Linked DNA regions of Homo sapiens: region 1 is linked to region 2. A link means that fine-mapping ties the variant in region 2 to the expression of a gene that starts in the linked region. Tissue or cell type: blood mononuclear cells. Region 2 holds a variant in brackets; the other region holds the start of a gene. All regions are shown on one strand. Distances are from middle to middle.

The links. PIP is the estimated chance that this variant, and not a neighbour inherited with it, causes the effect.
Region 1: CHAMP1 starts here. The variant in region 2 is fine-mapped to the expression of CHAMP1 in blood mononuclear cells (TOPMed, PIP 0.98).

The regions. Positions count from the first base shown.
Region 1 is chr13:114,312,915-114,315,663 of GRCh38, reverse strand. CHAMP1 (chromosome alignment maintaining phosphoprotein 1) reads right to left here and starts at 1,161. Exons shown (of 3, transcript NM_032436.4): 1 at 1,021-1,161. RefSeq lists silencers at 824-1,503, 2,276-2,570.
Region 2 is chr13:114,201,016-114,203,515 of GRCh38, reverse strand. All of the region lies in intron 3 of CFAP97D2 (CFAP97 domain containing 2), which reads right to left. Among named protein-coding and RNA genes, the nearest start is that of CFAP97D2, 23 kb to the right of the region's middle. The variant C/T (reference allele first, on the strand shown) is at 939.

The sequences.
Region 1 (2,749 bases), 110 kb before region 2:
CTGTGCCTGAGGGGGAATCATACAGTATGTCTTTTTTGTGTCTTATTTCACTCAACATAATGTGTTCAATGTGCTCGTTTATACTGTATAATGTGTTCGTTTATATTGCAGCATGTATCAGAATTTCATTCCTTTCTAAAGATGAACAATGGTCCATTCATTATATGTATATACCACAGCTTGCCTTTCATCCACATGTTGATAGACATCTGGATTTTGAATAATGCTGCGATGAACATTTGTGAACAAGTATCTGAGTCTCTGCTGTCAATTTTTGGGGGTATAAACCTAGAACTGAGGAACGACTACCAATTTCCATAGCTGCTGCACCACCCTACTTTCCCACCAGCAATGCACCCGAGCTTCAATTTCTCCACATCCCCAACACTCATAATTTCCCTTTTTTTTAATAGCCACCCTAACAGGTGTGAGGTGGTATCTCATTGTGGTTTTCATCTGCATTTCCTTAATGGTTAGTGATGTTGAGCATCACTGCACGTGCTTATTGGCCATTTGTCTCTCTTCTCTGGAGAAATATCTATTCAAATTCCTTGCCCATTCTTGAACTGGGTTGCTTTTTGTTGGTCAGTTGCATCTCTTCTTGTATTCTAGACATTAACTCTTTATCAGGTTTACAAATGTCCTCTCCCACTTTGGAGGCTGTATAGCGGATTTTTAAACAGTAATAATGACAGAAGAGGAGGCAGTCTAGAACTAAAACAGAAAGAATGGCTTTCGTCTTGTGCCGCCCTCAACTTCCCAATGGTTTCAAACGCAATGTTTCCAGCCTCGGCAGCGACTGACACCGGGCCTCCCCGCTCCCTGCACAAAGACGCACTCCCGCCCCGGCCTGTGGGGGCGGGCCCTTCCCTCGGGCCGTGTGGGAAGCGAGGCAGCGCAGGCCCCCTTCACTCGGACCCGCGGCTTCCCGGGACCGTCCCCGCCAGGTCGGCGGCCGACACGGGGCTCGGGGATGCAGGCCCCAACCACGCCCCTCCCCCGCTCGCTCTCGCTCCTCACCGGTCCGGCCGCGGGCGGCGTCCAGTGGGCGATGGACCGCGCGGAGGGCCCGGCTCGCGGTCGCGGGCGGCTCCGCGAGGCCCTGCAGCGCAGCGGCCTCCCGAATGGCGACTGGATGCAGGAGCCGGGATCCGGGTGCGCGAGCGTGCGCGCTCCCGCGGGACGGGCGGGGGCTGACGGGAAGCAAGTTTGGCGCCGCGCGCCCTCCCGCGCGGGCCAATCAGATCGCCGATCGCGTGGCGCGGCTGTGCCAAAAGTGCGTGGGCAAAACTAGCGGCTCGCGCGGGCCTTCGGAAGGGCTGCGTGCCCGCCCCGCCCCGGAAGTGCCGCACGTGCCCACTCCGCCTCCGCTTCCCGCGCGCGCCCGGGCGCGGCTCCGGGAGGGTTCCGCCGCGTCTGGCCTGTGGCCTCCGGCCAGGCCCTTGGAACGGCCCCGGCCTGCCGCCGCCGTGCGGATATCTCTTCCTTTTCTTGCTGTTTTGATTGTTGTGTGAATGAATTTATTAGGAAAAAAAGAGCTAGACCTGCCCCATACATTCTCAGGGATATTACTGGCATAATACCTATGACAAAAGTACAAGACAAAGTTGTTGGATGACAGTAAATATTCCTTTTCTCATCACCCCGCCTCCACTGAAAGTCCCGATTCCCAGAAGTTATCTTCTTCGTTTTTTGTTTTCAGTTTTATGAATGTTACCACCACAATTCTAATTAAAATGCATGCACCTCTAATGCTGATGCCATCAGTCTGTATGCTTTGAAAGACTGTAAAATTAGCTCACACTGCTCTCTACCTTTGTACCCTTCTGAAGTTTTGCTTGTTGTGAATTTCATTTTTGTTTTTGTGGTGAAAATGAACTATAGAATGGCCGGGCGCGGTGGCTCACGCTTGTAATCCCAGCACTTTGAGAGGCCTAGGCAGGTGAATCATCTGAGGTCAGGAGTTCGAGACCAGCCTGTCCAACCTGGTGAAACCTTGTCTCTGCTAAAAATACAATATTAGCCAGGCGTGGTGGCGGGCGCGTGTAACCCCAGCTACTAGGGAGGCTGAGGCAGGAGAATCCCATAGAACCGGGGAGGCGGAGGTTACAGCGAGATCGCGCCACTGCACTCCAGCCTGGGGGAGAGAGTGAGACTCTGTCTCAAAAAAATAAAAATAAAATCCATAGAATTTACCGTCTTAACTATCTTTACGTGTACAGCTCAGTGGTGGTAAGTATATTCATAACACCACCATCCATCTCTGTACCTCTTTCATCTTGAAAAACAAACTATGCATTACATGTTAACTCTCGGTTCCCCTCTACCTTCTACTTTCTGGCAGTCACCATCTTACTTCCTGTGTCTCTGAGTCTGACTACTCATAAGAGTGGAATCATACAGTATTTGTCTTGTGACTGACTTATTTTACTTAGCAGAACATCCTCAAGGTTCATCCATGTTGTAGCACATTGTGGAATTTCCTTCCTTTTTAACACTGAATACTATCCCATTGTATGGATATGCCACATTTTGCTTATCCACTCACCTGTTGATGGACACTTGGCTTGCTTCCCTATTCAAGATATTGTGAATAATGCTTTGACATTTTCAAAGAACCAATTTTTGGTTTCATTGATTTTCTCTATCGTTTTCTATTTTCTATTTCATTTATCTTGGCTTTAATCTTTATTATTTCCTTCTTTTTGCCAGCTTTGGATTTAGTTTTTCTTTTTATAGTTCATTAAGT
Region 2 (2,500 bases):
GCTGAACTAAGGAGCAAAATTCTGCAATAGTTTGTATATTGCCATCTTAATATAGCAAGACTTCTGAATCCATACACGTGGGATATTTTTCCATTTATTTAGATCTTCAATTTTTGTGGATGACGGTTTGTAGTTTTTGGAGTATAAATTTTGTACTTCCTTTGTTTATTCCTAAGTACCTATTCTTTTGATACTTTTGAGTATGGAATTGTTTTCTTAGTTTCCTCTTCAGATTGCTCATTGCAAGTATATAAAAACACAATTGATTTTTGTGTATTGATCTTGTATTCTGCAACCTTGTTGAACTTGTGGATTAGTTCTACAGCTTTTTAGTGCATTCCTTAAGATTTTCTATATGCAAGATCATATCATCTGTGAATAGAAATAGTTTGCTTCTTCCTTCCCAATTTCGATGTCTTTTATTTTCATGTCCAGTGAGGCTTGCACTTTTCTAAATTCTGTTGCAAATTAAACCATCCCTTTGGGAAGAGAATGGGAGCTGTTACGAGGGTCTGCTTCTTCCTCTGGGCAAAATCTCAGAGCCCTGGAGCTCGGAGTGGGAACAATGGCGATCTTCTCTCTGAGTGACACCCCAGGCTCTGTGCTCCACTGTGTGTGTGTGTTGGAGGGACACACAGGTCTTCTCGGCGTGACTCTCCCAGCATGGAACCAATGCCTATGAACCAGACCAAGGGGATCTTGGCTCCTGTAGTCTTAGGATCACCATTCCCAAGGCTGCAGGCTAAGCATCCACTCCACAAACAGGAAATGGGCAGAACAAGAGCATCTCCAGCGTGGGGCCACACTCACCTGGGATTTAGTCTCAGCAACAGGCAACTGCAGACAAGATGAGAAAAGTAAGGCCCTGCCCCTTCCAGGAAGAAGGCCCTTCGACTAGGAGCTGTGGGGAGCAGAGCCCATGCACTTGGCTGCAGCTT[C/T]TGGTGTGCATCTGCATTGCTGAGCTGGAAGCAGTGGGGAGACAGCAGGTTTTAGCTCATATACCAGGGACATTTGCTGTTCTTGTCAAATTACAGTAGCTTTTCTTGAATATATGTTTCTTCTTAGGACCATACAGCAGAGACTCTAAATGACTGTGTTTTAACCATTTTCAAAAGTTTTGCTGGGGAGTGGGTTGAGAGAGCTCCTCATGCGGTCATTCTGGGGGTCTCTCATGTGGATCCCACTTGAAATCCATTTGTCATTGAGTTTTCAGTCTTGGGCAGAGGTATTCATCTCTGAATTTCTTTTTACATAAACTCTGATTGCAGCCTTATTTGTAATAGCCCAAAACTGGAAACCACCCAAATGCTCATCAACAGGTGAATGGATAAACACATTGTGATAGATCCGTACGATGGAACACTACTCAACGTTATGCTAACTGAAAGGCAGACAAAACGCAGATACTTGATGAACCTATACACATAAAATCCAGAAAGTGCAAAGGCACCCATAGGGAACCTTCGATGGGCAGAGGGTGGTGGGTAGGGGGACCGAAAGGCTCAGGGAAACCTGGGGAGTGATGAATATGTTTACTGTCTTGACTGGGGTGCTGGTGTCATGGGTGTATCATATGACAAACCTATCACATACACTTTGAATATGTGTTTACTGTATGCCAATCACATCTGAATAAAGACATGAAAAATGAAATCAGGAGTGAAAGTCCAATTGTTGGCTCTATAGTTTCTCTCATGTTGATTTGTGCTACTGGCTGACCAGCTAGCTAGATATGTTTATTCCATCAACCAACTGGTCTGCAGTGCTCCAGAAGCAGCTGAGACTCCCCTGAAAACGAACTGTTTCTCTCCAGCATTGTGCATTAACTCGGCAAGTGTCCTTTGTTAAAGAATGGAGTCAACTGAGACATGAAATAGCCAGTTATCAAGCCCCAAACTGATGCATTCTTGAGAAAAATGGTTGACTTTCCCATGGCTTCCCTTGAAGCCCTGGAAGCCCACAGTAAATCATCTCTGAGGCAGGTTTGCTCCAGTTGGGCCTTTGAACAAAGCCAGCACACAGGACCATGCAGGGCCCGCCTGAGCTTGGAGCAGCACCTTCCCAGTGGTGCACCCTGCTGGGCCTGCAATCTTCCTGTATCACACACCTCGAGGTACCTGAGGATCAATTATATTTTAATTTATTATGAAATCTGAAACTACTATAAGCTTCTTGGGGATAGGTACAGGCCAAAAGTCTTAAAAGGTTCAAGCACTTCCGGAACAAAAACCCCTTCATTAGAATTAACTATCACAATCACCATCAAAATCTTGCACTTACAGGGAAAGGGCCATGGTGTAACTATGAGGTTACTCTAGGATGTGTAAGATGCAGGGGGCAGAGGTTATTGACCTTAGACAAGAGAGGCTTTTAGGATTCACAGTCAAGCATTTATAAGGTGATTTTAAGGAGTATGAAAGCCTGCTGATATTCATTTTCACAGAGGGCAGAACTCCACTTCTGGGTGAAAAGTGAGGTTATGAAAGAGCAGTACCAGTAT